4 linked regions of the Homo sapiens genome follow. The protein of the gene in region 1 purifies or fractionates together with the protein of each later gene. This does not show direct contact. Each region holds a gene or a part of one and is shown in the gene's direction. Other genes may lie near its edges.

Region 1 (7,027 bases):
GTCCTTAGAAGCCCATCCCTGTTGCCTAGCCCAAAATGTGCCCACCTTCCCCTTGACTACCACCCCCGCCCCAGCAGCCCCTCTCCTCAGCCACAGCCCCAATGCCAAACCCAGTTAGAGCCACTTCATCCCCTCTCTGCCCAAATGAAAACTAAAATGCAAGCGTCAGCAGGCCTGTCTATGCCTGTGTCGGGACTACCCCTTCAATTCACCCATGCAACGTCGCCTGAGCTTCTCTGTGCCTGGAGAATGGTGGGCAGGGTATAGCCCCGCTGAATGACAGCAACCTCGAATTGACTTCAGTTGCCAAGAGCATTGGGCACTTCCCCCACAAGGTGAAAAGATCATCCTGTGTCCACTGCTCTGTGGCTTGGCATGCCTCGATGCTGGCTTCTCAGACAGGCCCTGCACGGGTGGCTCTTCTTGCCAACTTTACCCCATTCTCTGAAGGGCACTGGGAGATGGAGGGGAAGAGGTTGGTGCTTGAAAAAGAAAAGATTGGGAGGCCAGATGTGCACCCCAAAATAGGACTTCCCAGGAAATGGGTCTCAGTGAGCATATTAACATCCAGCATCTTCATCTACTCCATGCTCACCTAAGACCTCTGGGGTCAGGGGAAGGGGCTATGGAGTCAGTGGGAAGTGGGCCAGTAGCAGACAGGAGAGTTGCCTGGCATAGGCAGTAGGTGTGAATGCAAGCTGTGATATTTCAGCAGAGACCTGGAATTCAGTCATAAACAGAAAAGAAAGAAAACACTAAATATTGTTCCAATGCAATTGTATCAAAAACAGTAATAACTGTCAGTTACTGCATGTTGGCAATATGCCAGGGACTGTGCTGTGTGCTTTATATCGTTGCAGTTAATTTTCACAAAACCCTGTGAGATACGTAGCATAATGATCCCTGTCAGGGTGAGGAAACTGAGGAGGAGAGGGGCTAAAGCACTTGCTGCAGGATCACTGGGCTGGTAAATAGCCTTAAAGCCCAAACTCAGTCACAGCATGCTTAAATCTCTGCCACTAAAAGCCCCTGACACTGCTTACTTGGCAATGACCATGAGCGCCCCCCGCTGCCTCCACCCCAGTTAAGGAGCTGCACAGTTTACAAAGCACTTCTTCATCCATTCCATCTGTGGAGCTTTGCCACAGCTCTGGGAGGCTGGGTGGCATGATAGCTTCTGCGTGATAACTGGGGAAGCTGACTTGCAGAGAGATGAATTTGTGCCCAAGGTCCCTCAGCTGCTAGGTTGCAGAACTGGGGTTCAAATTGAGATGTCCAGCCTGTTACAACATATTTGGGACCTAGATTTTAAATTCATTTGCAGCTAGTGCTGATGTCATGCACTCAGCCACCTTTCCCTAACTCTCGGGTATCCCCCAATTTTGTCCCCACCATCTTACTGCTCAGGAAGCTATTGAGAGTGCCCTGACAAAGCCATCAGCTGCATTTACCGTGATCTGACATGACACAGAAGTGGCATCCGATTCTATGCAAGCTGCCTGCAGCGAATGGTCTTCTATTTTTACATTTCTCACAAATTGGAAATTACAAGGAGGCCAGGTCTTGCAGCGAGATTGGCTGTGGTGCTCTGAAAGCAGGGGATGTACAACTAGGTGGAACAGGCCACTTTAGGATGCCAGGGGCACTGTTGGCTGTGAAAGGGGCCCCCTGGCTGCTGGGGCTGGATGGGATCCTGGCACACAGGCCAGGCTTGGGGATGCAGGAGTTAGTGACTGCCTTGGACGGTGACCTGCAGCTCTGCCCACCTGTCAGCTGCCTGGTGTCTGCAAGTTCTGTGTCTCACGCCAGCTCCTGAGATAACTGAGCCCTGGCCAGAGGGACATTCAAGGTCAAAGATGCCCTGAAACATCGACAGCAGGTTGCTTTCATGGCTGTGTAGTTTGATAAGGAGATTCTGTGCAGGGAGAGGGCAGCAGCCACAGGGAGGTGAGCAAAGACATTTGGTATCAGTGTTGCGGTTTGCTGCAACTTAGCGCTGATCACGATACTCCCGGTCATCAGAACCGCACTTTATACTTTGCTAAAAATGCTCTTGCAGCTGCTTTTTCTTTTGATCATGTATGAAGTATTCCAGGGGAAGAAAATATGGTCCTTGAGATCCTGGAGAAGAATCCTCTCTCCAATAAAGAGTGATTTTTTTAAAGCTAGTTTTCTTATAAAGCCCAAATCAGAATGACCTTGACCCAAATGAGGCTCCTTTGCACACATGTGCGTACATGCACACGTTAACACTTATGTAGAATTTCAGTTTTCAAAGTGTTTTCTCAGTCGAAGCTTGTGACAGCCCTGGGAACTTCAAGTGAAGGTAATTTTATTGTTATTATTGGTACCATTATTATCCCCATCCAAAAGATGAACCTGAGGCTCAGTGAGCCCTGACTCCTCATCTCTGTCCCCTAGTTTCCCAGCTGATGAAAATCACCTTTGCTAGGCTGAAATCCAAGTTCACCAGGTAGCCCCTTGAGAAGGAGCCCAGATGAGGCCAGATCTGGTAGGAGGCAGAGCACAGAGCACTCAAAGATCGAGACTTACAAGAGAGCGTGGGAAGGCACGGCTGTGAGGCTGGGGAGAAAAGGGCCGTAGCATCTTGTAACCTTACCTGAGCTCTGGCCAGAGATTAACATCTCCTTGGTTATGCGCAGAGTTTGGGGTCCAAAGTGTGATCATTTGGCCGGGGGGTCCCAGCAGTAACCAGGCCTGGAGGGAGAGGAAGGGATGGTTGCTCTCACACACCTATGTGCACACAAGAATGCTTTTCTCGGTGAATTGGGGGAGAAATGAACACCAGGGACCCCATGAGATTTCATAGAAGGATCTAAAGGTCTTGGTAGCCAGGAAGGTTGTGGGGAGTGTTTGTATGTGAGCCTCAGCTCAGACCCACTGGAGGAGCAGGCTGTGTGCTTCTGAGCCATGCCCAGGCAAGAGGGCAGGGATCACTCACCTCTGCCTTTGGACTGTTGCCATGCTGGAGATTGTGAAATATCATGAGTTCTAGGAGCTTCCCTCTGGGGTGCAGGGGGAGGCAAGAGACCTGAGGGTTTGACAGTTCCCTGGCTGGATGGTGGGGAGAGAACTTGTCCAGCTGGGCCCTGACAGTGAGTTCAGAGGGCCTGCTGGGCACTGGTCCCTGAGCCAAGGCTGATACTGGATGATAGGTGCTACTCTCTCCTTCTGCCAGAGAGGACCCTGAGCCCAAGGGTGGTGGAGTCACTTGCCACAGGGTGCACAGACCAAGTTTGGTCCCAGGTCTTGGTGATGCCAACCTCATGCTGCTTCTGAAAAGCACCTGAGACAAGATAACTGTTGGGGAGCCAGGGGCTTTTTCTCTGTATTCGCCATTTCTGGCTGTGCCATGCAAGGGCTGAGAAAAAGTGAAAGCAATACAAAATAAAAGTGGCCAAAAGCAAAAGCTACCAGCTTCCTGGGCACCGTCTGAGCTGCCAGCCTGCAATCCAGGCTTCACTGCCGCCTGAGCTGACCAAGCCCCTTTCCGCCCAAGTCAGATGTTTCCAGAGCTTAAGATCCAGGACCCACCTATGATTAAAAAAATAATAATAAAAAGTAGGCCTGGGGAGAGAGAAGAAGTCATCTTACTGAAGAGTATTTTTGAAAGATGGAATTTAAATGCACGCATGTATTACATATGCATTTTTAGCAGGTTGGTTCAGCATAATGACACAGAATGATCTGATATGTACATCTCTCAGTCTTGGGCTCTGCCTGTGACCTAGGCACTGAGCCAGTACTTCACAAGCATTGTCCCAGGATCCTCAATAAGGAAACTGAGGCTCAGGGAGCTCAAGAAGTTGCCCAAGGTCATACCACTGACACAGGGCAGAGCTGGGAATCAGATCCAAAGCTGCAGGGCTCCGAGGCTTGGGCTTGCAGACCTGAGAAAGAAGTGGGAGAGCCGCCTTCTGCTGGGCCTCAAGCCTGTGGGGGACCGTGGGCAGGTTCTTTCCCCTCTTGGCTTTGCATGCTCAGTTCATACAGCCAAGAGGTTTGGACCATTGGATAGGATGATCGGCTGCTCCCCGCACCAGGCGCCAGTTCTCCAGGCAAGGGGAGGGAAGTTGCACGCCCCACTTCCTCCTCTCCTCCTCCATTTCCCCCATAATAGCCTCCCCGAGACTAATGACTGAGGAAGATAAGAGCCCTTTCTCCAAATGGCAGTGAATGCCACTAATGACAGAGCAGATGCAGCACTGTTAATTATTCCACGGGTATTAAATGAAAACGCCAGCCCTGGAGGAGTTAAATAGCACCACTGATCTGGCAACGTCTGTGCTTAAAAGTGATGCCATCAAACCGGGCCGGGGCAGAGCAGCCCCCTCCCCAAACTTGGAGCTAGACAGGAGTCACAAAGTAAGGGTCCCCTCATTGGTCACAGACCCCTCTTCAGCTCAGGGTCCGAAGCAGCTCCTTGGAGACATGGATCGGTGGCTGCTTTGGGAGATTTTCTTAAAGGCCCCTGGGGGGCCTAGACTAGTTATCCTTAGGGGCAGATGTGGACAAACAATTGGACCGAATAAAACTCTGAGCACCTACTGTGTGCCAGGTCCTATTTTGGATTGTAGAAAGAAACTGGATGCTGTTCCTGCCCTTTGAAGATCCACTTGCATTGAAAACCGTAGATTCCTTAAGAGCAGGAATGCTGTGTTGTTTGGAGTCTCTGGTCCCATAGTCAAGAACACAGAGTGGGTACCTCTGTATTACTTTGATTATCTGCTGGTTCCTTGAATGAGAGCCAGAGGCCACACAGATTGTGGCCAGAGTGAGATCGGTGGGCAGAGGGACTGGGCCAGGGTCAGGCTGTCTTCTTCAGGTACAAGCAACATGACCTTCCTGGACAGCTTAGCCCCAGGTTCTGAAACAAGCCATGACCTGGATGAAGAGCCGGGTTTTCCACTTGCTGAGGCACCACAGGCGACTCCTTTGCCCTCTCTGAGCCTCAGTTTGCACATCTGCAAAATGGGGAGGATAAGGGCCATGATGGCTGCAGGCAAAACAACTGTCTCCTAACCAATCCTGGCCCTGAATCTGGAGGATCACAGAGACCTCATGAATGTTTGAAGAGTGACATTCTGGAGGAAATTCAGCAGAGAGAGAGAGTGTAGTCACCAAAGGCAGCATCTGGTTCTTCCTGTGGGTCTCACTCAAATCTCACTCCAACCCCCAATTCATCTCCAGCAGCTCAGGTCACTTGTTCCCAGCTTCCTGGACCTGGAAAGCTGTTTCTCAGGTCTTTGTAGGCTAGAGAACATCACAAAACCCACCCATTTCAGACACACCTGTGTTATAGATGGGTAAACTGAGGCCTAGAGAGGAAGAGTCCTAGGTCTTGCAGAGGCTAGGACCCAGAGCTTCTAACCCCTAACCCAGTGCTCTTTCCCTTCCACCAAGCCAGCCCAGCTCCTCCGTTAAGAAATTATTAAATAGAGTTGGTGGAAGGACTCTGGTTGCCGTGACAACGGAGCCTGTGTCCTCGGGAGATAATGGCGTTGCACAAGGCAGAGCGATGTGTGTTGAATGCTGATTCAGGACCTGCTAGAGTGAGAGTGAGTACAAGAGGAGAGTGGAGGGGACCGTGTCTAGAACTCGAGCTTCCCCAAGAAGGAGGTGCGGGACTGGTAGGGGTGGGGCAAATTGCCTTCTCTACTTCCATCCTTCCTACAGCCTTGTCAGAATGGGATACTTCCCTGCACTTCGTGGAGGTGCAGAGTCAGGTGAGGAGAGGTGAAGTGACTCATCCCAGGTCACACAACCAGGAAAGAGCCAGAGCTGGGATTATACCTCCAACCAACACGGGGGCCTAGGCTATAGGGAGGGCCTGGAAGGAGGCTCACCTGCAGGGGCAGGGGATGGTTGATGGAGACCTCTCTAAAGTCTTAAGTGCTTGTGGAGGTCCTGATGGTCCAGGAATGACAATTCCAGCCCAAGAGGAAGAGAAAACAGAATGTCAGCATAGCTAAAAGCATCAGCTTTGGAGCCAAAGTCACATCTCTCCCTGCCACTTACTAAACTGTGTAATCCTGGATGAGTCACTTTCTCTCTGAGCCTCAGTGTCCTCATCTGCAAAATGGGGATAATGCCGGCACCTACCTCATAGGATTGTGGTGAGACTGCATATCATGAGGAAGATAAAGCATCGAGCCCCAATCCTGGCCATAGCTCAATCACCAGCAGCTGTTGTTATGAACCAAAGGGGAGAGGCTGGGAAAAGGATCCACTCCCAACCATGTATCAGCTTGTAATTTGTGGTGTTGGAAGAGCGAAACTGGCTAACACAGTACAAGCATGATACATAACAGGGCTCTTCATTCCAGGCTAGTAAATATCACTAGAACAAATGAACAGCTCCATCACCAAAAATATACATAAATATTTTGCATTTGAAGAGTGTGAATGTTGTACCTCACTGCAAATGTACTGTCCTTAAAAACCTCCATGCACACCTCACTGAGGGAATGTGTGTTTTCTCTGTGCCAGCTATCTAAATGACCCCATGCTGCAAACGCTTTTGGAAAATAAACACTCTCACCCACCCACCTAGTTTCTCTTCTAGAAGCACAGCTGGTTCAGTGTACTTACCTCCCTAATCAGGGATTGGAGAACATGGGGTTAATACCCTGTGAAACCCCAAAGTGCATCATTTGCATGCTGGCAAAGATGCAGGCTGGCAGACAACCCCATTCCATTTTGGAAGCGGAAAGAGGGTGCTGGACTCAGGCATTTGGCTGTTTGAAAAGCGCTGGTAAGAGCTGGGATCCTGATGATTGAGATGCAAGCAACCATTTTGTTTGTTTCCGCAAACCTGTTTGAGCAAATCCACCCCCAGAGATAGCAACCTGTTTCTGGGTCCCCTGAGAGAGAGGGTCATTTGTTTGCTGCTGTTTCTGGGGCTGGATGCCAAGCTATGAGGCAATGAGCTGACGACCTTGGATCCTGACACCCCTATTCTATGCAGGCAGGAGAAGGGTCAGGGAGACTGATTCAGTGAACAAAT
Region 2 (6,106 bases), about 110 Mb from region 1:
GTATGTGTGCTAAGCCTTTAAAATCTTTGTTTTTCACAGGTCATAGAGAAGAGATACTTTTTAAGAGAAGGTAATCAGGTTGGTATCTCTTTTCTTGATAAAATAGATTCTTAAATTTTGATAGGTGATTTCCAAATTTAAGTTCAGAAGTAGTTTTAAAAAGTTGGGGAAAGCCCTTTATAGGCACAAGCAACTGATTTCCTTCTATCCTGTTAAATACAAAAGGAGAAAATCAGAACAAAGGGAAAATAAGGATCTAGGAAACAAATATAATCTAGGAATAAGATTACATTATAAAATAGAAGAAGAAAATAATTTGCTTGGGACTCCAAGAGTATACGTTCAGGGTCTGTCACAATACAAATAATTTCTATAAAAGTCTAGTAGGTATTATGAGATTTACCTTCATTCTTTCTGATTTAGATGACACTATCACCAATTTGTTGGGAAATGTTTTCCATTTGGGTAAGATTTATTTTTATTATTTAATCTGTGGTTTTCTGAGTAAAACCTCAGAAAGTTGTTTTTTTAAGAAACAGCAGGCTGACATACAGAAATGGAAAAGAAGGGAAAAATTACTATTAGTATTTGAACTTTTATTGCTTGAGACTTAATGCAATTATCTTTCTTGCCTACAGATTCCAGGCTTTCCTGATCGGAAAAGATTTGGGGCAGGAACATTAAAGAGCCTTCATTATGACTGAATTACACTCATCCTTTGGAAGAGTGAGCAAGCAGTGGCAGTTTTTCACAGCTCATCTTGCTGTGTTCAATTATTACCATCACAGCCTTTTAACAAAATCATCTTAAAATGCTACCCTTCAGCCTTACCCTTTAATGGAAAAATGAAAGGAAGTGACAATACGGGAGGTCCAAACTTTGTCCCTGTTCTCTGTGTTCCTTACCTTTCTGTCCCTGTGTATAGATTATGTAAAAGCCTTGTGTAAATATGAGATGTTGTCAAAATGATGCAGTAAATGAGCAATGACAGTGTACTGCAGAGAAAATTTACTCTTGCCTAGAACTGGAGGGTTTTTATGGGTCTGTAATTTTCCCACACTCATTGCTGAAAGCTTAATTAAGTACTTCAAAAACGTATCTCCATTGTTTTACCTTCTTGAGGGGAACGGTCTTGTTAACCAGCCCTGAGTTGTCTACCCCAAACAATCTCTGTCATTTTCAAAGATGCAAAATGGTGTTATTTAATTGTCTCCACCATTGTCACACACAGGAATGCCTAATAATAGCAACCCTTGTCTCCCTCTTCTCTCCTTTGCAAATGGCTCAGTGACTGGAAGAGGCGGACTAATAGCCAGAGTTAAATATAAATACAAATTAATAATACATAGAGAACAGCAATACCAGAAAAAAAGAATTCTGGTAAAATGATGTGAAAAATTGACAGCTCCCTCACTCTTAAGGTTGCTGCTATATACAGTCTAGGTTTTCTGTTTGGAAATAGGTAGGGTAAAATCTAAGACCTGCACAAGGGCAGTGAGAGACATTTACAGCCTCCTCTCTATTTGTTTTTTTAAGGAAAAGTCAACTCCTGAAATGTCCCTTAGCTATAATCAGAAAACTAAGAATATTATTCTGTGTCAACAATGTATTTATGGAGAGAAGTAAAAATAAGTTCCACAGCAACACATTTACATGAATTATGAACTAGGATTCTTGGATTTCATAATCACTCCAAAGCTTTTTGGGGATGGTGTGTGTGTGTGTGTGTGTCCGTAATTGTTCATCATTACTTTTTTTAACCTATCTTTTTGCTTGCTTAATCTTCTCTGCCCCAGTTCTTCCTGAGTATATGAATTTGATTTCTAAAAACAATTTATTCAACACTCTATCACCCGTATTCTCTCTCTGGCTCTGCTGCAGGTCTCTGCACTCCTGATTTTGCTCCATACTTTTAAATAACAATAATAAATATACAGTTTTCATTTCTCATTTAAAAAATAGGTGGAAAACACCAAATTCACTTTCTGTTCCATTTTAATTAGGTTTCAGAAGTATCTTGGAAATCAAGGTATGCTGCAAGAGGATATTAAAATAAGAATGTTAGAGAGTCCTTTTAGAAAGGCAGTCTTGGGAATTTGGAAAAGGATTTTTAAAGCAGCTTTCATCAGCTAGACTGTTCTCCAGCCTTTCTTTACTTCCTCTTTGAAAGGACATAGCCCTGGTTTCTTTTTGACACAAAGGAAAGCTATGCAAATCATGATCTGTATGTAGAATTGGTCACAAGTATGTTGTTGCATAGGCTGTACAGTTGGGAAGTAGAAACCAAATGCTACCCAGAGACCTAACCCAATTAAGCTCTTTGTATTTCTCCTTCAAGAAATAAATCTTCCTTCCTTCTTTCTTCCTCTTTCTTTTAATTTTAAAAAAATTCATCCTGATTTTTTTATTTTCTATCTTATTTAAAAAATAAAAATAGGCCAGGCGCGGTGGCTCACACCTTTAATCCCAACACTTTGGGAGGCGGGTCGATCACTTGATATCAGGAGTTTGAGACCAGCCTGGCCAACATAGGGAAACCCTGTCTCTACTAAAAATACAAAAATTAGCCAGGCCTGGTGGCACGCGCCTGTAATCCCAGCTACTTGGGAGGCTGAGGCAGGAGAATCACTTGAACCTGGGAGGTGGAGGTTGCAGTGAGTCAAGATCGTGTCACTGCACTCCAGCCTAGGTGACAGAGTGAGACTCCAACTAAAAGAAAATAAATAAATAAATATATAAATATATAAATAAATAATAAAAGTAAACTATTGCTGATGACTCCAGGGTCAATCTGGAAAAATTAACAGTATTCCTCAACTCCATTACTTTCTGCAGCCAAGCTTGATTCCTTGAATTATAGTTTTCTAAGAAAAAATAGTTTTTAATAATCTAAGGTAAATTTGTTGCAATTATTAGCAGCAGCATAATAAGGCTTTTTGCGCAAATGAATGTTATTAGCTAGAGTTATTCAAAAAAGAATGAAGCACAATTTTTGCTAGGACTTCTTGAGAACTATTCATAAAAATGCTTTTAGATAATAAACAAGTATAAATGTCAAAATATTTTTTTAAAAGTATAATTGGCCAGGTGCTGGCTCACGCCTATAATCCCAGCACTCTAGGAGACTGAGGCAGGAGGATCACTTGAGCTCGGGAGTTTGAGGCTGCAGTGATTCATGATTGCACCACTGCCTTCCAGCAGCCTGATGACAGAGTGGGACTCCATCTCTTTACATATGTATATCTTACTCTCTTGATGGGACAAGTTGGTAGAAATAAAGATTTTTTTTTTCTGTTGTGATTTCGGTGTCTGACCAATTTTCTGACTCATTGTGAAGGTGACCAGATATGAAGGCATATATATGACTACTCCTCTGTCCCTTAGGTGTATAAGACTTAGCTGGAATCCAACTAAAGATTTGGGCTGGTCTCTCCATCTTAACGTTGATGGGATTCAGGACACATAACCCCAAAATATTGCACCCTGTTATTTGAGAAAACTGCAGAAGCAAGGTTTCTCATACCTTCCCCTTACCCCTTCTCCCCTGAAGCAGGCCATAAACCCTAAGTGACTGTTCCCTGAAGTAGATCATAAAACCTTCATTCCATAGGTACCCTTTATCCTCACAGATACAGAGACACCAAGAAGAATCTGGACAAATAGGACTTGCTAAGTTCTCCACAGTTTATTACCATTAGATTATGTCCTTTTGTCCTCTGATTATACTTCTGCATAAGACTGTACATAAAAATACACAAGTTTTCCTATTTCTTTTTTGTCTTCATTTCTGAAGATTCCTGTCATGTAAAACTTACAGTAAATAAATGTGTGTGCTTTTCTCAATAATCTGTCTTTCGTTATAGGTGCCTCATTTGTGAACCTAGTGATGGGTGAAGAAAGAAAGCTCTTCTCCGCTACAGTGCTCTAAGAAAAGCTATTCCCAAAAGAGTTGATCCATATTAGCTTTAGCTCGGGTTCTTAGAATTCCTCAAACTTGAGGCATTCATGATATAATCCAGGTGCCCTGACACTTGTTTTTCTGTTCATTCTGACATGGACTTCATGGAAATGATGTGCAGGGACATCAGACTGAGGTGAAGAGCTCCTAATTGCTCCTTGTAATCAGAGTTTCTGAGTCCTCATTTCAATAGTTTGCAGTAGCACCCACCATAGGTAGGACCTTGTATGGGTTACTAGATGGTGGCTTAATTGAATTTTTTAAAGCACAGGTGACATCATATTTTAAGAAGTTTAAAGGTCTAACAGGGTGTCTGCATTGGTTTAATATATGTTAAAATTCAAAGGAGGAGTCTGTTTTGGGGAAAGGAGGAGAAGGAAATTAGAAATTCATTTCTCCGCAGTCCCAAGACTGAGCTAAATCACTGTGGTGGGAGAGGAAGGGTCGCAGGAAGTCTAACCCTGTGTCTCAAATATTTCACAACATGTTTGCCTACACAAAATATCTGATGTTAGGGTCAGCTGGGGCTGCTCCATAGCATAGTAAAGGAATTGGACATCCAGTTACAATTAATCTGCACCTCCATTAAGGACTCACATGGAGGGCTTTCAAACTCTGAAGTGTGTAAGAATCCCCTGAAGTGCTTGCTGAAAATGCAGATTCCACGATTTCCTCTCTCTTCCCTTACTCTCCCCTTTCTATATGTATAGGATAAGGCCAGGATTTTGTATTTTTAACAGACAAGCCAGATTTTTCTCATGCAGATAAGTCAGGATCTAGCCTTTAAGAAAGACAAATAAACTCATCAAAAAGTAGGGAATATAGATTGTGAACTCTGTACTTTATGAGTGCCATTATAGCAGAATTCATCAAAGCGCATCTTTGACTGCCTCAACCTGATCTCACCTTAATGAACTGATCCACTCCTCCCCACTCAAAGCTACATATGCCAAATTAAACATGAGATGATTGTCATGTCTTCTGTTGGCAAAACAAGTATTTGTCTTTCATGTATTGCTATCATTTTTATTACTGCCACTGTTTTTCCCCTGGGTTCTGTTTTTAATCCAAATATATTTATTTCTAACCAGTGCCTTGCCATCTTACACACAGCCCCCTCTCTAGTACTGTGTTTTCTCAGCTGGCTAATCACTAAGCTTTACCGAGGTCATCAATAACTAATGACAAAGAATGGAACCCCTAAACTCCAACCAAGGTGTAAAACCTCGCTCAGTACCATCAAGTATATCAGGTAATCTCTCCGTTCCATCTTTTTCTCGGAGACATCTGTCCTGGAGTCCTCTGATGCCTAACTCCGTTTTGGAGTGATTACTCTGTAGACCTGTCACACCCTGCTTCACATTACCTTGTAGCAATTCCTGGATGTAATGTTTTCCACTTTCTATCCAACTCTTACTCTATGGGACTTGGCTCAGACATAGTCTTCTCTGGGAAGCCCTCCCTGGCTCTGCTCGTCTGGGCTACGTGCCCACTAGTGCTTCCCCTAGATCCCTGGGCTCTTTCCTGTCAGAGCACTTACACTATGTTGTGATGGTTTTCAAAAATTGTTAAATAAATGAATGTATAATTACATTAATTAAAATGGAAAGCCATTAGACATAGAATCAGAACTTATCTGTAGCTGTGTAAGTTATTTATTCTCCAATCCCAGCAGGACATGATGGCTTATGCCTGTAATTCCAATACTTTGGGAGGCTGAGGCCAGAGGATGGCTTATGCCTGGGAGTTAAAGGCTGCAGTGAGCTGTGATGATGCCACTGCACTCCAGCTTGGATGACACAGCAAGACTCTGTCTCTAAAAAAAAACATTAAGTCAGGTGCAGGAGTTCACGTCTGTAATCCCAGCACTTTGGGAGGCTGAAGTGGGAGGATTGCTTGAGCCTAGGAGTTCAAGTTCAGCCTGGGCAACATGACGAGACCTCATCTCTACTAAAAAATTTTTAAAGTAGCCGGGTGTGGTGGTGTGTGCCTGTAGTCCCAGCTACTCAGGAGGCTGAGATGGGAGGATCGCTTTAGCCCAGGAGGTTGAGGCTTCAGTGAGCCATTTTTGTGCCACTGCACTCCAGCCTGGATGACAGAGAACCTGTCTCAAAAAAAAAATTAAATAATAAAATAATATTTTAATAT
Region 3 (7,027 bases), on another chromosome or scaffold:
AGTGTTAAGAGGTCATAAGTGTTTACCTATCAGATAACCATCTGTGGCTCTGTGTTGGATTTTTTTTATACCATTAGGAAAATGGGAATTTTTTTATAGGCCTGCCATACTTCTACTTTGCCAAATAGCACTTTATTATCAAGATACACCCATGGCTCATTTCAGACTCACTGAACTTTTTTTATATGAATGCACAGTCGTCATATTTTGGGCAGTCTGTGAGTTCTTGGTAACTCATCCCCTTACTACAAAAGCACTAAGTGAACAATACAAAAGTATAAAAGCACAAATTTGAACTTACATAGTTTAGTTTAAGTATGTTTCACTAGAAAATCAAATATTTAGATTTCTCACATTGAAAATGCTTAGGATTGAGGTTTAGCTGCTTCCTTTAAAAAAAAAAAAAAAAAAAAAGCCCCATGTCTTTTTTCTTTACCTACTGGAGTATTCTCAGACCATTTCCTACATGAAAACACCCACCTGCATTCCTTTAGTCCCCTGTATGGTCTCTTTGAGGATCAGTGCCCACTAGGTTGTCTTGTAGGTGGACTAATCTACAGATCACCTTTACCTTCAGTATTTTCAGGAACAAGTGAATCATGGAGTCAAATAAGAGCTTTGTTTTGTTCACTTGACTCACCACTTGACTGTATTCCCTGAAAATGTTAAATGATAGTTCTCTAAAAAGACCAGGTCAAGCTAGCAGCCTCTAGGCTTCCATCCATGTCACAGCTGGGCACCTGCTTGGGTGCACCTTCTGTGTTGGTGTCCTGCGGACTGCACTCCAGGAGCAGTCAGCCTGTGCTCCTGAGTCTCCCCTCCCCAGGCCCTGGAGGAATGGGGAGTGAACCCACTTAGTTGCTGAGGCCTGCAGTTCTTCTGGATATTTTAGTGACCTCACAGACAGCAAATTAAAACAGGAGCTGATTTAAGAAAAGAAGTGCTGGTACCAAAAAAGAACTTTCTGTTTTTACCTTGGGATAATTTTTTATAAGCAAGTCAAAGGGACTCTCTTTAAGTTACTGATGGAGAAGATATTTGAGGTTTTTTGGGGGGCCATTTTTAGTGGCTCTGATATATCCAAGCTCTTTTAGACACTTTAGAATGAAGAGCTGTTCTAATGTTCCAAAATCTATTCGTTGGTCAAAACATTTGGTAGCATATGAAGCTTTATACAGACTAGGGATATTGGAAAAGAAATGTGACTTTTAAAATGACACCTAAAACATGCATTCGGTGTCTGGTCTGTTAACTAGGGGCCATCTGGGTCAATAACAAGTTACCTCATGGAGAAAATGCAATAGGACCAAACAAGGAAGGAAATAGGAAGTAACTCAGTCTCTCTTGGGTTTAATGCTAACCTGCTAAGGTCAGGCAAAATTTAAGTGGATTTAGAAACCATAAAACCTTCTAGTGAGATGAATGCAGTGACAAAGGACCTTTGACCAGAGAGTCAACTCTTCATTATTCGGACTTTAAAGCCATCTTTTTGGAGGTGATATTGTATTAGGCAATCCGTTATTTACTAGACATTGCAGAGCACCCCTTCTAGATGATGAGGCGGATATAGGGGGAGTGAGGGCTGTGGTCCATTCGGTTGGGAAGATGGAACACGCAGATAAATCAGTGTGTGCTACAGTTCCACCGGTAACTTCACTCTCATAAGGTGGATTCCAGAAGCATCTTGTTTCCATTATCCCCCCAGTCCTCTTCCTCTCATCTAGCCAGTGGCTGTAATACTGAGGTGGAGAGAACAGTCATTGTTTAAGCTGGCTATCTTTTGGCCTGAGGGTTTGGGGTATGTTGATATTTGTCGGTTACTATGACTTCTTTTTTTTCCCCCCTCAATTGCATCAAACCCTTAAAACATGGTGGTAAGTGAGCGATATGCATGCTTTTGGAGTTTGTTTAATCTCCGCTTCAGTCTATACGATGCACAGTTCATAATGTTAACACTTTTCTTCAAGTTTACTTCATTCACTTTCACAACTAATTTGGATTTCAGTTTGCTGTTTAATCCTCATTTACTTTGGTTTCTGTATCTTTTTTCTGTAATTCTGTTCTTTCCCTCTCCCCTGACTTCCCTGTTAGGGGTCAAGTCGTTTTTTTGTCTGACCTGTAGGGGAGAGTGGTGCTGCAGATAGTGATTCAGTCCAGGAGAGTGGGGAGACATGAGGCTCTTTTGTTTGTCAGTGTGAAAGTGGATTTGGGGAGACAGATGAAGAGGGCTCCTGGGATTTTGCCCCCTTGTGAATCTCAACTGCTCCCACTTGCAGGCATGGCAGCTATGCCGGAGGCACTGTCGCTAAAACACCTCCATGCAACCCTTTGCATGTTACCAGCTTGTTGGGCTGGAAAGTGACATTACTAATCAGACACCAGGGAATACCCACACTCCAAAAGGAAAAACAGCCCGTGGTGTGAGGTGCTTGGGTTGGTGCCTACAGTGTCATGCTTTGAAAAGATTAGCCTGGCTATTGCGATTCTCCCTCCCCTGCTTTTTATTTTAAATTTGGGAGTAGATTGGTGTATTCTTGATTCGGCTCTCTTGCATTAGAATTTTGTATTTTCGAGTGCACAGCCAGAGCACTAAAAGTATTCCAAGTTTGCTCCTATGTCTTTTCATTTAAATCCCCAAAGTGCTTAGTTCCTAGCATGTAGCTGAGCTGGCTTGGCCGGGATGCTGAGCATTAGGATGTTGTGAGGGGAGAATTTAGGCTGGGCTTTTGTGTCTTAGTACCTGGTATGTCTTTGTATCTCTCCACTGCATACACAGCACACAGATGTCTTGGGTGTCCTTAAGTCTTAGTTTGTTCTCTGTACCCGTTTGATAGTGTATACTGTTGTTAGTAGTGGACTCCTGTGGACACTAGTGTGTCGCTAGCCTATTGTTTTGGCTGATGAGTCATTGGTTTGTGGTTAGTTCTTTTTTTTGAAATCCTTTTTTGCTCCAGTCACTGTGTGTGCTGGCGGTGGCTTTGCCTCTCCGTTGCCTCGAAGGAACAGGTGGAGCAATGTCTCCCTCTGACAGACATTACTCCCGACATGTGCTCCTGCAGATGCCTACACTGAGACTGTAATCTCCATAACTGCTTCATGTGCACCAAGCCCCCTTGTGGAATCCTGCTGAGAATTTTTCTAGAAGCCTTCAGTGAAATCAAACTGTTCTGAATCATTTAGTTTACCTGACTTTTGTATAATAAAAACAAACTAAGAGCACTTACTTGTTCCCTTCCCCTTGTGGGTCTTTTTAAAACATTCTCTCTCTGTGAATGTGTATCTCTGCTTAAAGGGGATCAAGTTGCACTTAGTTGAAACACGAAAGACTTATAAATCAGAATCATAAAGTATCAATTTAAGAAGGCTTAAACTCATATAATGTCAGCTTTTTGATTTTAAAAAAGTTATCTCATGGCTCCCCTGGGTTTGGCTTCTGGTTTTGGCCAGGGCACAGGAGTGAGCCTGTCTTTCTGAAGTCTTTTCTAGAGGGATGTCACCACTGTTCAGCTTTCCTCGGTGTGTCACAGAACATCCTCTGGTATACATACACTTGTTGCTGGCATAGCCCAGCATGGCTGACCCAATTTAGGTTGAACTATTGTGATTGCCTCTTCTCAATCTCATTCTCCAGACTAAAGACTCTTCTAAAGATTACAAAACAGCAAGAAAAACAGAGTGCCCTTTGGGGAAGTGAGGATGTGTGGCTAAATGTACAGATGGTACACATCCATTCACATTGCAGGATTGAGCCAAAACTGCATGCATTCACCACAAGAAAACAAACAGCAGGATTTTACAACTGAAATGTTGGTTTGTCTTCTCATCTATTTAAGAGTGAACCACTGGAACTTGGGGACAAGATGAGTATAACAATGTTGCAGCCTATCTGTCCGCTACAGTTGCAGTTTTTCATGACAAGCATTCAAAGTGTTAACTAAAACCATTGAAACAACATACCTGCCATTTAAACTTGAATCTAGAAATAATAACTCCATGAGTGTTTTGCACCTCCAGATGGAATGGCCTTTAATAAATGCTGTGAGTAGCCATGATTGCCACTTGCAGTTTGCTATTCTGTTAATCCTTATGCAGAATCTAACAGTTTTCTCCTTTCTTCTCTTATCTCTCATGGATTTTTAAAAAACTGAACACCATGTAGATGATGAACCAGCTGGACCAATGTAAGTACTTTATTGGACATTGATTCAACAGTATCTGATTGAATGATGTTGTGTTTGCAGTTTAATCAAATGGAGTAGCTAAGATTGGAGGGGAAGACAGTGAGTGGAAATGAAGGTTGCAGTGTAGATTTCTTAGCTTGACACAGATCTGACTAAAAACCACTTGATTCTCAGGATAGGTTATGCAGTCTTGTTTTCCAGTGGCCATACAAAGTGGAATACCATGCAAAAAACTTTTTTTTTTTTCAAATTTTGTGTATTTGATATACTTAAAATGTGGGGGAAATGGCCAGTATATCTGAGGCTCCCGGTTTTGTCAATGTTAAAACGTTTCTGATCCCAAGCATTTCAGATGAGGAATACTCAACCTGTAGCTACTTAAGGAATGTTTTTTTATGCACTCATATTGTGCCACAAAATTTCTCACTACACCAGGGATGGTAGTAAAAGGGTCCCTGTATTTCCATGTGTTATACTTTCAAAAGTTGTTACTGACCGAGTTTAACTCATGTAATGCAATTTGAGGCTGAACTATAGCCTGGATAAACTGTCTAGCCCCATTAACAATTGCTCGTATCCAAGAGAGAGGGTACTGCAGGTATGGAATCAATCTAAGATCGGCAGAATCTCCTAGAGTTGGACTAAAGAGTGAGAAGCAGACAAACAGCACCCAAATTTGTTAAGTACCAGAGGGCCCAGCACTGCCAGCTTATGATTACCTTTTATCAAGAAGGGACAGTGGTGTTGTGTTCAGTGGAGAAAAGTTTTACATATTCTCACCTGTATCGTAATTATAGTTCCGGATTCGAAGGGAAAGTACTCGTCTGCCTTGGGGGTCAAAAGGAGGATAAAATGAGGTATATACAGGTTGAGTCTACCTACTACCAAAATCCATAATCTGAAATGCTCCAAAATCTGAAGTTTTTTTTGTGTGCTCACATGAGGCTCAAAGGAAATGCTCATTGGAGCATTTTGAATTTTGGATTTTCAGATTAGGGATGCTGAACTGGTAAGTATAATGCAGATATTCCAAAATCTAAAAAAATTCAAAATCTGAAACATTTCTGATCCCAAGCATTTCAGATGAGGGATACTTAACCTGTAGCTACTTAAGGAATGTTTTTTTATGCACTCATATTGTGCCACAAAATTTCTCACTACACCAGGGATGGCAGTAAGTGAAAGAGTCCCTGTATTTCCATGTGTTATACTTTGAAAAGTTATTGACTGAGTTTAACTCATGTAATGCAATTTTTCCTCCAAAGGAAAACCAACTCTACCAACAATCACAAAGATAAAAACTTGCGCCAGAGAAACACAAATTAAGTACTGCTTACAATGTAAGTATGGCCTTCTGTAGCAGTCTTAAAAATTATATTCAAATGAATGTGCCTCTATTGACCTTGTTACAAATTCTTCAGTAATTGGTGTTATAAGATATTTTAGTTCATTTCAGAGCAGCTGATACTGATGAAGCCAGTTCTGTCTGCCCAGTTTAGGGACTGGAAAGGAACATTTTTCAGCTGCGTTGTTTTTTGTTGTTGTTTGGATTTTTTAAGATGGAGTCTCACTCTATTGCCCAAGCTGGAGTGCAGTGGTGTGATCTCGGCTCACTGCAACCTCCGCCTCCCGGGTTCAAGCAATTCTCCTGCCCCAGCCTCCTAAGTAGCTGGGATTACAGCTGCCCACCACCATGCCCAGCTAAATTTTGTATTTTTAGTAGAGACGGGGTTTCATCATGTTGGCCAGGGTGGTCTTGAACTCCTGACCTCAAGTGATCCGCCTGCCTCAGCCTCCCAGAAGTGCTGGGATTACAGGCATGAGCCAGTGTGCCCCGCCATCAGGTGCATTGTGTCACATGTTTATATAAATGCCATTTCAGAAGACATATTTTAAAATCAACACTTTTCACTACTATTATATCTTTACAAAGAGGTGAAAATTGTCACCTTCTTAGGTGGCTTATTCCCAGAGGCCTACTAGTCTTACCTCACGTCTGGGGGCAAGACAAGAATGGCCAGGTAGCAGCAGGGCCAGAATGTCATCTTGTTAGGCATATGGAGATCAGAATTTCACACCACATCCCTGAGCGTGCTGTTTGAACCAAAGTTTTGTGTGGCACACGGTGTAGTTGTGAGTGACAGTGCATAATCCCTTTATAATTTCCAAATACATATTTCTTTACAGATCTTTAGGTTCCTGAAACTGGTGGCAACATGACCTGCTAAAATTTTCTGCTTGGACCTCTTTGGTTCTCTCCCCTTTCAAGTGAGCAACACCACAATGACTGTCTAAAGCATGCCTTATTTAGCCTCTCCTGTAAGGGTGATCTAGCCAGGTACATTTTAAACAATGCTTCAGTGTAGAAGGTGTAAACTATTTTGGGCTTGATGTGCTGTGAATGTTGCTTTTTTTTTTCCTTTGTTAAAATATTTAAATAGAAGTGAAAAGGTCCTCTGAGGATCAGATCATGCATGCGCCATTTTTTACTTAATGCAGCTGTTAAATTGGCAAAGCTCTAAAATGCACTGCTGCCATCTAGTGATACACTTTTGTAAAGTACAGCAAAACCTACAGATATATACAGTATATAAATATATATATATATATATTTATATTTTTGGGGGTGGGAGAAATCCAAAATAAAGTAAATGCTTGTTTCATTTTTAAGCTGCTGATATTCATTCCTTATTGTATGTTGTCAGATGAGGAAATTGTGCAGTTCTGGTACATAAAGATGAGTAATATAAACTGAAATCTATAATTTTAAGGGCTTAACCTGTGACTTTAATAAGCTGGAACAGTCCACTGAATGGGTATAATGAATTGCAGTATATACGTATGAT
Region 4 (7,719 bases), on another chromosome or scaffold:
TATATATAAAATATATATTTTATATATACTTATATAATATATAAATTATATATTTTATATAATTTATATTATATAAAATATATATAATATATATATCTTTATGTCCATGAGTACTCAATGTTTAGCTCCCATTTATAAGTGAGAACATGCAGCACTTGGTTTCCTGTTCCTGCATTAATTTGCTTAGGATAATGGCCTCCAGCTGCATTAATGTTGCTGCATATGACATGATTTTGTTCTTTTTATGGCTGTGTAGTATTGACTCATGTCCATGTACCACATTTTCCTTATCCAATCCATTGTTGATGGACACGTAGGTTGATTCGATGTCTTTGCTCTTGTGAATAGTGCTGTGATGCATGTGTCTTTTTGGCAGAATAATTTCTTTTCTTTTGAATATATACCCAGTAATTAGATTGCTGGGTTGACTTGTAGTTCTGTTTTATGTTATTTGAGACATGTCCAAACTGCTTTCCACAGTGGCTGAATTAATTTACATTCCCACCAATAGTGTTTAAGCATTCTCCTTTCCCCATGGCCTCACCAGCATCTGTTGTGTTTTGACTTTAAAAGCCATTCTGACTGGTGTGAAACGATATCATATTGTGGTTTTGATTTGCATTTCTCTGATGACCAGTGTTGTAGAGCATTTTTTCATATGCTTGTGGGCCATTTGTATGTCTTCTTTTGAAAAATGTTGTCCTTCATGTCAAGGGCAGTATGGTCACTTTTTAATGGTTTTTCTTGTTGAGTAGTTTGAGTTTCTTATAGATTTTGAATAGTCACCCTTTGTCACATGCATTCTTTGCAAATATTTTCTCCCATTCTATAGGCTGTATGTTTAGTCTGTTGATTATTTGTTTTGCATTGCAGAAGCTTTTTAGCTTAATGAAGTCCCATTTGTCAACTTTTGTTTTTCATTTTTGTTGTTTCCTTTTGAGGACTTAGTCATAAGTTCTTCGCCTAGGCCAATGTCCGGAAGAGTTTTTCCCAGGGTTTCTTCTAGGATTTTTATAGTTTCAGGTCTTACATTTAAGTCTTAAATCCATCTTGGTTAATTTTTGTATACGGTGAGAGACGGGGGTCCAGGTTCATTCTTCTGCATATGGCTCTAAAATTATCCCGGCACAATTTATTGAATAGGGTGTCCTTTTGCCAGTGTATATTTTGTCAAATATCAGTTTGCTGCAAATATGGGGCATTTATTTCTAGTTTCTCTATTTTGTTCCATTGATCTATGTGTCATGTCTATTTTTATACCAGTACCATGCTGTTTTGTTTACTATGGCTTTGTAGTATAATTTTAAGTCAAAATGTGATACCTCCAGCTTTACTCCTTTTGTTTAGGATTGCTTTGTCTATTTGGGCCCTTTTATGGTTCCACATGAATTTTAGGATTGTTTTTTCTAATTCCATGAAGAATGACATTGGTAGTTTGCCAGGTATTGTGTTGAATCTGTATTTGCTGAATATGTATTCCTGAATCTGTATTTGCTGAATCTGTATTGTTGAATTTGAATTGCTTTGGGCAGTATGGTCATTTTGATGACATTAATTCTTCTAATCCTGGAGCATGAGGCGTTTTTTCCATTTGTTTGTGTCATCTATTCTTTCTTTCTTTTTTTCTTTCCTTCTTTCCTTCCCTTTCTTCCATTCTTTTCCTTTTTCTTGAGACAGGGTCTCACTTTTTTTTTTTTTTTTTTTTTTTTTTTGAGACACAGTCTTGCTCTGTTGCCCAGGCTGGAGTGCAGTGGCATGATCTCGGCTCACTGAAAGCTCCACCTCCTGGGTTCATGCCATTCTCCTGCCTCAGCCTCCCGAGTAACTGGGACTACAGGCGCCCGCCACCACGCCCAGCTAATTTTTTGTATTTTTAGTAGTGACGGGGTTTCATCGTGTTAGCCAGGATGTTCTCGATCTCCTGACCTTTTCACCAAGGCTGGAGTCCATAATCATAGCTCACTGCAGCCTCCAACTGCTAGGCTCCAGCAATCCTCCCACCTCAGCCTCCTGAGTAGTTGGGACTACAGGCATGCAGTGTCAGGCCTCTGAGCCCAAGCTAAGCCATCATATACCCTGTGACCTGCAAGTTATATGCCCAGATGGCCTGAAACAAGTGAAGAATCACAAAAGAAGTGAAAATGGCCTGTTCCTGCCTTAACTGATGACATTCCACCACAAAAGAAGTGAAAAATGGTGGGTCCCTGCCTTAACTGATGACATTACCTTGTGAAATTCCTTCTCCTGGCTCATCCTGGCTCAAAAGCTCCCCCAGTGAGCACCTTGCGACCCCCACCCCTGCCTGCCAGAGAACAACCCCCCTTTGACTGTTAACACATTTTCCTTTACCTACCCAAATATTACAAAACGGCCCCACCCCTATCTCCCTTCACTGACTCTCTTTTGGACTCATCCCGCCTGCACCCAGGTGAAATAAACAGCCTTGTTGCTCACACAAAGCCTGTTTGGTGGTCTCTTCACACGGACGAGAGTGAAACGCAGCACCATGCCCAGCTAATTTCTTTGGTTTTTCAGGGATTGTAGAGACAGGGTCTCGCTATGTTGCCGAGACTGGTCTCAAACTTGTGGCCTCAAGCAATCCCCCAACCTTGGGCTTCCAAAGTGCTGAGATTACAGGCACCAGCCACCTCACCTGGCCTGATTTCTTTCATCAGTATTTTGTAGTTCTCCGTGTAGAGATCTGTACTAGTCTGTTTTCAGGCTGCTGATAAAGACATACCCCAGACTGCGCAATTTACAAAAGAAAGAGGTTTAATTGGACTTCCAGTTCCACGTGGCTGGGGAAGCCTCACAATCATAGTGGAAGGCAGGGAGCAAGTCCCATCTTACATGGATGGGAGCAGACAAAGAGAGAATGAGGAAGACGCAAAAGCGAAAACCCTGATAAAACCATCAGATCTCCTGATACTTAAGTCACTACCACGAAAACAGTATGGAAGAAAACACCCCAATGATTCAATTATCTCCCACCAGGTCCCTCCCACAACACATGGGAATTATGGGAGTATAATTCAAAATAAGATGTGGGTGAGGATACAGGGTCAAACCATATCAAGATCTTCCATGTCTTTCAACAAGAATAATTAATATGTTAATTCACATAGAAGCTGAAATAGTCTCCAAACATGGCCAACCCTCTTAGATTCAGAAACACAAGGTTTACACTTATAAAAAACATATGGACCCCTTTCCTCCTGGAAATTTACTACCAGGGTTTGTAGTCTAATTGACTATACTCCTACAGCTTTAACATCTCATATAGATGATAATCAGACCTATGATATAGTATAACTAGTTAAAATAGAAATCATATTTCAGAGTACCCACATTCTTCCCATGTGCAGTTGACGGGCCATATTACAAAAACAAAATTTGGAACTCCATTTCTGTTTTAGATTGTCCACAGCTTCAAGACGAATGTTATCGTCTACAAAATGTTTAAAATCCTGAAATTATAGAAACGTGGCTTTAGTCTCTACCCATTCAAAATAATATGTAATATATGGAAAATGTTTTTGTTGAGGAAGAAAGATAAATGAGACTGTGACCATCTTAGGCCTCACAATCAGACAACATTTAAGTCATATTGGTATTTGGTGCAAAACTGGATTCATAAAAAATTACTTTGGCGACAAAATGACACAGTAGTCTAGATATTGATACTCAAATATTCTGGGTATTAAAACTCAGTCTTCTTCAGGTTATACTCCCAGCTAACTTACTTTGGGACACGTTCTCGGTCTATACTGAGTCTGTGTTCCCAGGCTTAAGTCCTCAAACTTGGCCGAGTAATAAAACTAACCATGATTTCTTTAAGTTTTAGTACCTGTTATTTCACCTTTCGGTCGACAAATCGTTTTTCTCATGTTCCTCTGTCTTACATCAATTTAATTTGTAGACCAGCCAAATGACCTAAAAGGCTAGAAGGAAACAATTTTTCCTCCCCTACAACTATTTCCTCTAGTCCTCCGGCTGAAAGTTGTTCCACGTCCTGGGCAGAGAGAGCCCCACCAGGCAGCACCACCAGCTCCACAGAGTTGGAGCGATTCCCCCAAGAAGCTCCCCTGCGCCCCTCCTCACCCCCAGAGACCAGCAGAAGAAATGGCATCTATCCCTTGGAAGACACTAGGCAGGAGAGAACAACTGCAAGCCCTTCTGCTCACACAGAAAAAAGGATGGCGGAGGTGGCGAATGGGATGTAGCAGAAACCCCGCGGCTGCGGCGGAAGGGACACCGCCCCTCTCCAGCCTAACTCTGAGCCATCTTCCCCCTGTTGTTATAGCACTTAGAACGGACGCCACTGCGCAGGTCACACCGTGCCGCGCAGCCTTCTGGGGGTCGGAGTCCAGAGGGGCTGAGGCGCGAAGGCGGAGACCGACTTCTTAGCGGGCCGCAGTTGGAATTAGATTTCTACTGGGGCGGGGCTCGAGCGAACCACGGCCTAATCCTCATTAGCAGAGAAGGATAATTACCGCAATACTCTGCCCTGCCCTGACAGCAGCTCGTGAGACCCTGAGTCTGCTGAAGGCCGCCTCCAGCCTGGGCTCCGGGCACAGGCCACACCCCTCCCGCCGCGTCCTGGCCTCTCCCATCGATGGCGTGTGGGTGGGGCTTCGTGGGGGCGGAGCTGCGCGGGGCGGGGCGTCGCTGCGCGGGGCGGGGCGTCGCGGGCTCGTCCGTGATGCTCTGGGATCCCGCGCTTCCGAGACTCGCAGTCTACGCGAGCTGCCTGTTTTTTTCCTGCTTGGACGCGCATGAGGGCCCCGTCCATGGACCGCGCGGCCGTGGCGAGGGTGGGCGCGGTAGCGAGCGCCAGCGTGTGCGCCCTGGTGGCGGGGGTGGTGCTGGCTCAGTACATATTCACCTTGAAGAGGAAGACGGGGCGGAAGACCAAGATCATCGAGATGGTGAGTGTGGAGGCTCGGCGCGCCCAGAGCACGCGAGGGGCCGGCTGGGCCGTCCGCTGGCCTCGGCAGCCTGTGCTGGGCCGCTGTTCGGTCGCGACGGGGAGCTGCCGGCGTCGCCTGTCAGGCTGGGATCTCGCTAGCTCGGGACGCGCAGCTTGGGGGACCCGGCCGCCCCGCGTGCGGCCACTCCGCGGGCTTGGTGACCAGGGTTGGGTCCCCGGCTGCGGCCCTTGGCTGCCCGTGGTCTTTGTTAGGTTTCCGTTTGAAGGAACAAGGCAGAAAATAGATGAATCGGACACAGGCTACTTTGTGCTGCAAAACCCGTTTCTCTAGAGATAAGCTGCATGTCCTGGGCAGGTGGCTCCTTCTCTCCCTGCCTTGCTCCCGCCCTCCCCCCGGATCCGCGTCAAACCGTTGCCGCTAATCTAGTTGCAATTCCCGCAGAGGACTAGTTTTATGTTGGGGCTGCCGTGAGTTAGATTATGAAAATGTGCAATATCTAAAATTTTACAAGAATGGCAATCCAGGAGAAATTCAGGATAGTTTATTTTGTATTTGAATGTATTCCTTCTTGTCTCAAAACTCCCACGAAATATCTTTGTTTTCATCTTAACTCCCAAAGCTCTTGTATACATTTTCGAATTTAATTTTTTATTGAAGAGGGTGTCTCAAGAATTCCCTTTGAGATACATTATAAGTAATTGTTTCAAAAATGAGGATATTTAGTTTCGTTTTGTATTTTAATTAGAACCCACTCAGGAAGACAATTCTTGCACAAACTTGCACGCTTATGTATTTCCTGAAATGCATAATCCTGGGTATACGCCTGACCGTGTGCTATACATGTGAACATCTAGGGTCAGATGATTTATGATAGAAAAAAATTTAAAATCTACACTAAATAATATCATTTTAGGGTGTAATACTTGGAATTTCTGAGCACCTGCAATATGTTCCAACTGACGAAAGACACGATTTGTCCTATTGGTTGTACTGACCCCAGGTTGAATACAGATGTATTTGCATAATTAAAATTAGCCAGTGTCCCAGCTATTTGGGAGGCTGAGAGGAAGATCACTGGAGTCTGGGAGTTCAAGGTTATAATCACACCTGTGGATAGCTACTGCACTCCAGCCTGGGAAACATAGCGAGACCCTGTCTCTTAAAAAAAAAAGTTAATTCCCACTTGTCTCATATTCCAATAATATTCCCTAATTTTGAATTAATTTATTCTTAAAGGGTCTTAATAATTCTAAAGGCTTATTAAAATTCATTTGTCCCACATCTGTATGCCCACAGCAGCAAATGGTTTTAACTCAGAAGTTTCATTTTGCTTTTGTTGCTTTCCTGCTTAGAAAACTTGGCTTTCTTTTGCCCAAGGTTAATAATGCCTATGTAGGGGAAAAAACCGAGTTGCCATATCTCCCTGCCTGTGCTTAAACTATGGATTGGTCTGTATACCACTTATCTAAGCCAAGTAAGGTTAAAAATCAGTGTGTTCACAAAATCCTTCAATGATACCATCATAGGAACAGTTTGCTATCTTTGTGACAAATAATGAAGACCTATCTAGAATACCAACTTATTGGTACTAAAGAAATCAGTCAATATTTACATGTATGCATAGTATATTAATTCAGATTGTAATATATGTGTAGCCTGCTAGTAGCTTTTCAATGGAAAAAGTGAAAAGAGCTTCATGTTAACTTTTTTAATTTTAATAGGTTGCTTCTTCAAGTGGAAGAAGTATTTGACTGGGGGTCAGAAGACCTGGGTTGGAATCCTAGTTCCATCTTTCTGTAATAATGTAGGTCTGCTCTGCCCATCCTCTGCCCTCCTCCCTCAGAAAAATCTCTGCAAACCCATGATGTCCAACAGACATAGCTCATATTGGTCACAGCTAACGGAGTTAACTACCTAACCAAGTTGGGCCTATCTAACTGGCTAAGAAAACCAATAACTTCTGGGACTTGGTCAAAATGATGCATTGTCTTGCAAGAGTTTTTAATTGAGAGACATGAGGAAGTTGCTAGTGGGTTGTGTATGCTACAGCTGAAATATCCCATAGGGCAGCAAGATTAATGTACAGAAGAAGCCAGTCATGGCTAGGCATGGTGGCTCACACCTGTAATCCCAGCACTTTGGGAGGGTGAGGTGGGAGAACCCTGTCTCAAAAAAAAAAAAAAAAAAAAAAAAAAGAAGGAAAGCAAGATACGGAATGGGATCAAGAAACTGAATTGTAAAGGAATTTTGTAAAGCCATTATAAAGAGTTTGCTCTTTATTTTGCAACAAAGGATCATCAAAGGTTTGCTTTGGCAGGGTACAGTGGCTCACGCCTGCAATCCCAGCACTTTTGGAGGCTGAGGCGGGAGGATCCCTTGAGCCCAGGAGTTCGAGACCAGCCTGGGCGGCATAGGGAGACCCTTTCTCTACAGAAAATAAAGATTTTAGCCAGTGCAGTGGCACACACTTGTAGTGTAGTCCCACCTACTTAGGGGCCGAAGGTGAAATCTCTTCAGTCAAGGTGGTCGAGGCTGCAGTGAGTCGTGATCACACCATTGCACTCAAGCTTGGGTGACAGAGTCACCCAGAGTCTCAAAACAGAGAAACAAAAAACCCAACAGTATGTTTTATGAAGATGAGATAAGGTGGACTGGAAGGGAAGATCCTGGAAAGAAATAAATTTAGGAGGTTGGTAGTATTGCTTGCGAAAGATGATTAGAGATCTTAAACTATGGCACTAGCAACAGGTATGGAAATAAGGGATCAGGAGACAAACATTTCCGAGAT

What was found.
Region 2: the proteins of SLC6A1 (region 1) and RABL3 purify together in Homo sapiens (affinity purification with mass spectrometry; 2 studies listed by BioGRID and IntAct, with this or other methods). This does not show direct contact.
Region 3: the proteins of SLC6A1 (region 1) and NPTN purify together in Homo sapiens (affinity purification with mass spectrometry; 2 studies listed by BioGRID and IntAct, with this or other methods). This does not show direct contact.
Region 4: the proteins of SLC6A1 (region 1) and NT5C3A purify together in Homo sapiens (affinity purification with mass spectrometry; 2 studies listed by BioGRID and IntAct, with this or other methods). This does not show direct contact.

The regions. Positions count from the first base shown.
Region 1 is NC_000003.12:10,995,725-11,002,751, forward strand, and holds part of SLC6A1 (sodium- and chloride-dependent GABA transporter 1), read left to right. Parts: intron 1-7,027. UniProt on the Homo sapiens protein: Mediates transport of gamma-aminobutyric acid (GABA) together with sodium and chloride and is responsible for the reuptake of GABA from the synapse. The translocation of GABA, however, may also occur in the reverse direction leading to the release of GABA.
Region 2 is NC_000003.12:120,684,421-120,690,526, reverse strand, and holds the end of RABL3 (rab-like protein 3), read left to right. Parts: intron 1-39; coding exon 40-78; intron 79-423; coding exon of another isoform or gene 424-465; intron 466-638; coding exon 639-704; 3' UTR 705-5,589; downstream 5,590-6,106. UniProt on the Homo sapiens protein: Required for KRAS signaling regulation and modulation of cell proliferation. Regulator of KRAS prenylation, and probably prenylation of other small GTPases. Required for lymphocyte development and function. Not required for myeloid cell development.
Region 3 is NC_000015.10:73,560,390-73,567,416, reverse strand, and holds part of NPTN (neuroplastin isoform b precursor), read left to right. Parts: exon of another isoform or gene 1-479; intron 480-3,631; exon of another isoform or gene 3,632-4,038; intron 4,039-4,159; coding exon 4,160-4,181; intron 4,182-5,446; coding exon 5,447-5,507; 3' UTR 5,508-5,521; intron 5,522-6,368; 3' UTR 6,369-7,027. UniProt on the Homo sapiens protein: Probable homophilic and heterophilic cell adhesion molecule involved in long term potentiation at hippocampal excitatory synapses through activation of p38MAPK. May also regulate neurite outgrowth by activating the FGFR1 signaling pathway.
Region 4 is NC_000007.14:33,059,777-33,067,495, reverse strand, and holds the start of NT5C3A (cytosolic 5'-nucleotidase 3A), read left to right. Parts: upstream 1-4,719; 5' UTR 4,720-4,790; coding exon 4,791-4,928; intron 4,929-7,719. UniProt on the Homo sapiens protein: Nucleotidase which shows specific activity towards cytidine monophosphate (CMP) and 7-methylguanosine monophosphate (m(7)GMP). CMP seems to be the preferred substrate.